2 linked regions of the Homo sapiens genome follow. The protein of the gene in region 1 interacts with the protein of each later gene in a pairwise test. Each region holds a gene or a part of one and is shown in the gene's direction. Other genes may lie near its edges.

Evidence for each region.
Region 2: the proteins of KIF1B (region 1) and ZBTB24 interact in binary tests that used the Homo sapiens proteins (3 or more experiments, as listed by UniProt).

What each region holds. Positions count from the first base shown.
Region 1 is NC_000001.11:10,290,300-10,294,501, forward strand, and holds part of KIF1B (kinesin-like protein KIF1B), read left to right. Parts: intron 1-782; coding exon 783-862; intron 863-1,747; coding exon 1,748-1,823; intron 1,824-4,202. UniProt on the Homo sapiens protein: Has a plus-end-directed microtubule motor activity and functions as a motor for transport of vesicles and organelles along microtubules.
Region 2 is NC_000006.12:109,476,509-109,480,710, reverse strand, and holds part of ZBTB24 (zinc finger and BTB domain-containing protein 24), read left to right. Parts: intron 1-3,780; coding exon 3,781-3,948; intron 3,949-4,202. UniProt on the Homo sapiens protein: May be involved in BMP2-induced transcription.

The sequences.
Region 1 (4,202 bases):
TATATTTATATAAGTGTAAACACTCAGCAAGTGATTGGTAAATTGTCACTTCAGTGTGTGTCTTCAGATGCGATTTAATAGTAAACCTTTCTATGTTGACTGCTGGGTTGTGTTCAGGAGGTTAGTGTGTTATGGCGAAATTGTAGTGAAACAAAAGCAGTAAATACGTTTGGGAACTTTATTCTTTTTTTTCTTTTTTTGAGATGGAGTTTTGCTCTGTTGCTCAGGCTGCAGTGCAGTGGCGCGATCTCGGCTCGCTGCAAGCTCTGCCTCCCGGGTTCATGCCATTCTCCTTCCTCAGCCTCCTGAGTAGCTGGGATTACAGGCGCCTGCCACCATGCCCACGTGGATCACGAGGTCAAGAGCTTGAGACCATCCTGGCCAACATGGTGAAACCCCGTCTCTACTAAAAATACAAAAATTAACTGGGCGTGGTGGCACGTGCCTGTAGTCCCAGCTGCTCGGGAGGCTGAGGCAGGAGAATCACTTGATCCCCAGAGGTGAGGTTGCAGTGATCTGAGATCGCGCCACTGCAGCCTGGTGACAAAGGAAGACTCCGTCTCAAAAAAAAAAAAGACTTGGAGGATTTATTTGTTTGGGGTTGATTTAGTTTTAGGTCTAATCTTTATGATTCTTATCTTATGTATTAATAAAAGAAAAATCTCTTTACATTTAATTCTGGCCTGTATCCTCAAAGGGCATGATTTGCTTCTTGCTTTTCTAGCATGGTATGTTAAATTATAAGACTCTTTGCCTCTTTAACTGTGCGCTTCCTTCCTTAGGAATCAGAGAAGATCATTGCTGAGTTGAATGAAACTTGGGAAGAGAAGCTTCGTAAAACAGAGGCCATCAGAATGGAGAGGTCAGGAGGTTAAAATCTGGAAATGTTTCTAAGTTTTCTAGGGGATGTGGATTACTTTATCGTAAGAAAAGATAAAATATAAATTAAAATCAAAGAGTCTGCCCTTCTAAAACACAAAACGAAACCAAAAAAATGGACAGGGATTTATGGCCAGTTGAATTTATGCTTTGAAATGACATCTACATATTTAAATATTATCTAGGGAGTCACAGGTTTATTAGTTACCATATTACATGTTGCTAGGGATTCATAAAAATGGAACATATTGGCCAGGCGCGGTGGCTCACGCCTGTAATGCCAGCACTTTGGGAGGCTGAGGTGGGCAGATCACGAGGTCGGGAGATCGAGACCATCCTGGCTAGCATGGTGAAACCCCATCTCTACTAAAAATACAAAACAAATTAGCCGGGCATGGTGGTGGGCACCTGTAGTCCCAGCTACTCGGGAGGCTGAGGCAGGAGAATGGCGTGAACCTGGGAGGCAGAGTTTGCAGTGAGCCGAGATGGTGCCACTGCACTGCAGCCTGGGTGACAGCAAGACTCTGTCTCAAAAAAAAAAAAAAGGAATAGCCTCTTCTTTTCTTTTTTATATTAATATGCATATCATTTATGAATTATTGACTATCCCAAAGTCAGTTGAGACAAAGTTCTTATCTCAGTGAATATAACTTTAACAAAGCAAGATTTCATTGATTTTGAATGTGATGTTGCTTTTAGAAATAACTTCTCATTAATGATGAGATAAGCACATTATTTTATGTTTGCATTATTGGCTATAAACATGGCCAGTTGTTTTTGCTTTGCAGGCTTTATTTTCCAATTCATATTAGACTGATTTAATTGACATTTTGGTATTAGTGTTCTGATATACCTGTTTTTTTCCTAGAGAGGCTTTGTTGGCTGAGATGGGAGTTGCCATTCGGGAAGATGGAGGAACCCTAGGGGTTTTCTCACCTAAAAAGGTAGGAAACAATGCTGTGAAACCTAATCAGACAGAGACACTTTTTGTTTGTCTTTGTTACTGGGGCACTTCATGTCTTTCAGGACCTACTCTCCCCCTTATTATCTTGATACTTGCCTTAATTTCAGATATTTCTGATTTCATCTTAGAGCATGGTCTTATAGTACAAAGGCAGCCTATTTCTAAAATGCCTATCTTGTTTACTGTTTACAAAAGAAAAAACCTAAGGCAATATGTAACCTTTGGCCATGATTCAGTTTGTTTAGTCATCTTTATTTGTTGCTTTCTCTTAAATTCCCAGCCTAACCTAGCGTACTTTCAGTTTTGGCTACTCTTTCATGTAGATTTTCCCACAGAAGTCGTCTACCCTGCTTTATAACTTTTTGGAACCAATTTCAGCTGTACAGGTTTGTGGAGAATAATACTGCTTCCATTTGCTTCTGCAATTTGTATTATAGACAGCCATTGTACTAAGTAAAGCAATTCCTGTCCCTATCCTTCTAGACTCCTCTGCTTCCTTCTTCATTTTTTAAAAAGTGTCTCCAATAGTTACCTTCCTTTTTACATAATCATAGTTATGAAGTAGTTACGTAGCTTTTAGCTAATTAGAGTAGTAAGGGTTTTTTTGTTTTTTTCTTAAACTAAGTTGCAACGTCTTGTTGGATACTAGAAAATGACTATCAAATGGTTATTTTGTGTGCTTATGTATCAGAAAATAGGAGAACATATATCGATGTACAAAGCATGTATTTTATGCCACTAGTAAATTGTCCTTTATTTCAAGTGACCTCACATTGGCTATTGGAGACTTAAACATCTTTATTCATAGGTTCTGTTGATGATCTCTCTAAGTTAGGATACAAGGGGTGGTGAGTTTTGAATTGGTACTTTTATGTGATATGAAATATTCCTGTGGTTTTCGCTACAATTCTTCTGGTCAGGTTTTTCTATCCTGGCCACATAACTTTTTTTTTTTTTTCTTCCCAAATTCCAATGTGTTATTTTCAACAGAAAAGACTGATGTAAAGACATTTTAGATGCATATTGTAGAATAGAACAGTTAAGTATTTTATATGTTTATATTATGAAAGGTTAGTGGTTTTCACAGTTTTAATAGTTTTTCCTTCAGTAAGACATGTATTCATTCAGATATGTTACTTAGGATTATATAGATTTTAGCAGTTACAGTTTTGGTGGAATTTAATTGTGCCTATGCATATGTCTAATAAAGGTATTTTATAACATCTTACAGTATTAAAGACTGTGAGGAAATTTTTTTTTTTTTTTTTTTTTGAGACAGAGTCTCACTCTGTCGCCAGGCTGGACTGCAGTGGTGTGATCTTGGCTCACTGCAACCTCCGCCTCCCGGGTTCAAGTGATTCTCCTGCCTCAGCCTCCCAAGTAGCTGGACTGCAGGCACATGCCACCACGCCCAGCTAAGTTTTGTATTTTTAGTAGAGACGGTTTCACCATGTTGGCCAAGGGTGGTCTTGATCTCTTGACTTTGTGATCCACCCACTTCAGCCTCTCGAAGTGCTGGGATTACAGGCATGAGCCACTGTGCCTGGCTGGAAAATTTTTATTATAACAACTAGTGAAAATATTATGCATTTAACATAAATCATAAATAACTTGAACAAATGTTGAGATGTACACTGCATGGAATTCCAAAGTGAGATCTCTGCTTCCAAAGCTTTTTCTTACTTTAATTTTACCCATCTTGCTTTAGCTTTCTAGACTTCTTCATGAAAGGAAGGGATATACCAGTGACCACATCCAAACTCAGTCTTAGGACCTGTTTCTGAGATTCCATTTTTCAAATTATGATGTGCTTTAAAGAATGCTACTCACAAAGGGCTTTGACTTTCTCAAACCAGTCAAGTTCTTCAACTACAAAGGGGGATGCTAGTTGAGAAGATGTGGAGGTTTTTCAGATTTCTCTTTAACCATCTTTTATAGTTCCTTTTCCTACCCCCTCATCTGACTCTTCTTTCATTCTTCCACATTTGCTGGCACTCTCTTGAGTAGATTTTGGCCTCAAGACCATGTGACTTATTTTTGGATTCCAGTGGGTTATTTTCACTAAAGAAGGTTGGTTTTTTAAAAAGATTTTAGAAATATTAGAGTTAGATGAAGAGGATTGTTAGAAGATGTTTATCTTATCGAATATCAGTAATTTTACTTTTTTCTTTAAGGTAAAGACTAATAAATTAAAATCTTTTAAGGTAAAGACAAATTAATAACTGGGATCAGAAGAACTGATAAAAATTATAGTGGGAAGTGGTGGGGGGGTATGGGGACATTTTAATAAAAGTAAATATTTCTTGAGATTTTTACCCAGGCATTTACAAAAATTATAATTATTCCGTTCAGAGAATTG
Region 2 (4,202 bases), on another chromosome or scaffold:
GAATCCTTTAATGTCCACTTATCAAGATCTAGCCCAATGTACCCTGCTTTCTGATTCTTGAACATTCTTCATCTTGACCATAACCATGCTTTTGCCCAAGTCTGTGTAGATCACTTTGTAACTCAGCTATCTAGCTTTAAATACCTTCTCATTTTTGGTCCCTCTAGCCCAGCGCTGACCAATGGGACCCTTCTGTGATGATGGAAATGTTCCTACATCTCTGATGTCCAATATGGTGGCCAGTAACCACATGTGGTTTTTGAGCACTTGAACTGTGGCTAGCGTGACTGAGAAACTGAATTTTAAATTTTATTTTAATTCATTTAAATTTGAATAACCACATGTGGCTAGTGGCTACCGTATTGGACACTGCAGTCCTAGTGAGAAATCCCTTCCTCCTTTGAGCCCTTTCAGGTGCTTAAAACCCACTCTGCTTTGGATCAGATTGTTGTTACCACTTGTATATCCCTCAACTTAATTGTAATCTTAAGTATAGGGACTGGGGCTTAAGTCTTCTCCTGTGATCCAGCAGTATCTGGTGCTGTGGTTCTCAGCCTGCAAATTGGAATCACTTAGGGAGCTTCTAAAACTACCAGTGCCTAGACCTCCACCCCAGAGCTTCTGATTTAGTTGTCTGGAGCCTTGGTGCTTTTAAAAGCTCCCTAAAGACTTTAGCTACAGATAGGTTGAAGAGCTTGAATTCAGGTACTTCGAACAAAGTGGATACTTGAGAAATATTTGTTGAACTGTAATAGGTTATATTTTAGCTTTTTTTTTTTTTTTTTTTTTTTTTTTGAGATGGATTCTCGCTCTGTCACCCAGGCTAGAGTGCAGTGGCGCGATCTCGGCTCACCGCAACCTCCGCCTCCCGAGTTCAAGTGATTCTCCTGCCTCAGCCTCCTGAGTAGCTGGGATTACAGGCACACGCCACCACGCCCAGCTAATTTTTTGTATTTTTAGTAGAGACGGGGTTTCACCATGTTGGTCAGGCTGGTCTCAAACTCCTGACCTCGTGATCTGCCTGCCTCAGCCTCCCAAAGTGCTGGGATTACAGGCGTGCGCCACTGCGCCCAGCTGGCTATTTTTATCAAAAATTTTATGTGCATAGTTTAGAGTTAAATCATTATACAAGACTTAAGAAAAAGCATGTAGGATCGTTCTTCCCTTATGTCCTCAGTACAGACAGTCCCCGACTCACAATGGTTCAATTCATCTTTACAATAGTGTGAAAGCAGTACATGTTCAACAGAAACTGTACTTTGAATTCTGAGTTTTGATCTTTTCCCGGTCTAGTAATATTCAGTATGATCCTCTCATGCCATGCCGGGCCACACAGTCACGTGGGTAAATGACCAGTACTCTGCATTTGGTGCATTCATACAGTACTCTGTATAAGTGCATTTTTCCTTATGATATTTTCAGTATGATGGGTTTGTTAGATGTAGTCCCATCATAAGTCAGGAAGCATCTGTATTCTGAATTTTGCAGCCCATCACTTTAGTATGGGTCTGTTTTCTTCCATCTGGGTAGATAACAGGTAGATTCATAAGGTTTGGAAACTGTCTTTCAGTTCTGGAAAATCTTGAGTTATTTCATAGATGATTTCTCCTCTCTGTTTTCTCTGTTCTCTCTAACTTTATTTTCTCTTATATTTTCCATCATTTTTGGCCCCACCCTCTGGGGGATTTCCACTTTGTTTTTCAGCCCTTTGAGGTTTTCTGTTTCAACTCTTATTTTTTTCCCCCTTTAGGAGCTCTTTTTTTTCTAAATGTTTTAATTTGAATGATCTTTTTATTTCACAATGTATTATCTTACCTCTATGAGCATGTTAATGATAACAACATTTTCCTCACTGGAGGCAAGTTGCTTTTTTTTTTCTTCTTGCTTGTTTGTCTGTCACTATTACAAAAGGCTCTCCTTGAGTGCCTGGTGTTTTTTTTTTAAATCATATGTAAGGGTGGGTTGCTAAAAGCTACTGGCAATGCTGCATGTGTGGAGAGAGCCTGTATTTTATTTATTTCTTAGGCTGTTGCCCAGGCTGGAGTGCAATGGCGTGATCTCCGATCACCACAACCTCCGCCTCCTGGATTCAAGTGATTCTCCTGCCTCAGCCACCCAAGTAGCTGGGATTACAGGCACGCACCACCATGCCTGGCTAATTTTTTTTGTATGAGAGAGTCTGTAAAACTGTGACCTTGTTCCCAGATCACACTGAGAGTCAGGCTGCTATTTCTCGTGGCCCAATAATGAGATGCAGATGAATTGGAGAGGAAGAGAGTTTTTATTTCTGTAACCAGTTATAGGGAGAAGGCCTGGAAATTATCGCCAGACCAACTCAAAATTACAGAATTTTTCAGAGCTTATATACCGCCTAAGCTGTATGTCTGTCTGTAAGTGTGCATTCCTCTAAAGACGTAGGTGATTAACTTCTTTTAATCTATATCCAAGGTCTGCGTCCCAAAGACCTTCTTCTGGAGCCTCAGTAAGTTTACTTAATCTAAATGGGTCTAGGTGCTGGGGTGATTACCCTTATCTTCTGCTAAATCACGGAGATTTGGGGAGTTCCTTCAGATCCCCAGTAAAACTTGTTTAATCCTAAGTGGGCCCTGTTAAGAATTCCTTCGTTATTTTGTCATGCTTTAAGGCCCAGGAGAAGCCTAGGGGAAACTCTTGGTGGGCTTTTGTTACATTCCAGCCTTTGTTTAAGGGCACTGGCTTTTAATGTTTAACTTAACCACTCAGTCAGTACTGAAACAGTTGTATGGAGGCCTGTCATAACCTCACTGGAGGTGGTGTGGCTGTGCCCCATGTCCTTACTGGTGCCTGGCTTCCACATCTTTGCTCTCTCACCTTGGACCTCTCATGTTCCACTGGAAGACGCTTCTGCTCTCCCACTTGGAGGCACTAGGCCTGGCTGCTGGCCTGTGTCTAGGACAGGATGGGGAAGAAGGAGTGGGGGAGTCTCATCATCCCAGATGGAAATGTTGACTTACTCTCCCTGTGGTGATCCCAACTCAACTGTGCCTAGAAACTCCTAATCCAAAGACCCCTTTTTCTTAACCCTCCTCAGTGAACACTCTCCATTCTCTTTTGGGGGAGGGACAGTCTCCTGGCTGTGTAGAGTGGAAGATTTGATCAGGGGTCTAAGCACCTTTGAAACAGACTTTCATTTACCCTCCCTCACCCCTGTTTCCAGAGATAGCAGGTGCCACCAATTCCTGAGCCTTAGGAGATTGTGTCTTAAAAATTAGGTTGTATTGGGCTGGGTGTGGTGGCTCATGCCTGTACTCCCAGCAATTTGGGAGGCCGAGGCAGGAAGATTGCTTGAGCCCAGGAGTTGGAGACCTGCCTGGGCAACATAGTGAGATCCCATCTCTAAAAAAAATTAAAATTACAATTAAAAAATTAGCTGGGTGTAGTGGTGGCACATGCCTGTGATCCCAGCTACTCAGGAGGCTGAAGTGGGAAGATCATTTGTTCCCAGGAGGTTGAGGCTATAGTCAGCTATGGTAGCGCCACTGCACTCCAGCCTGGGTGATAGAGTGAGACCCTGTTACAAAGGAAAAACAAAAAATTAGGTTATGTTAGTGCTACTCACTGCTGGCTTCAGATTCATCTGTTCAGCTTCCAAAATTTTATTGCTGATGTCTCTTGTGTTCATTGTTGGCCTTTTGGATGTGTGCCTTTTAAGAAAAATCCTTTATTGTTTTTTTAATTTGGGAGAGACAGAAAAATGTGTGGATTCTTACTTATACCATGCTTCTGGGGCTCTTCTTCCAGGGGAGCGACCTTTCAAATGTAATGAGTGTGGAAAAGGCTTTGCCCAGAAGCACTCGCTACAGGTCCACACCAGGATGCACACAGGCGAGCGGCCGTACACCTGCACCGTGTGCAGCAAGGCTCTGACCACCAAGCACTCACTGCTGGAGCACATGAGCCTGCACTCAGGTAGTGGGGCTTGCCCAGAGGGCCAGCTTCACCAGATTCCCATTCCCCAGGGTGGGCATTACCAACACCTAAATGGTGTTTTCTCAGCCTAGTATCATTTCCAACGTGGTGTCATTGAAAGACAGGATTTTGCATCTGTCTGAGTGCAGTTTAGAGTTCTGCACGGATCATTAAACTAGAGCTTATAAACTGGCTGCTGGGAGTTTAGTGTGCAAGCATGTTTTATTAAACCACCAAAGTTTAGAATTGTTTTA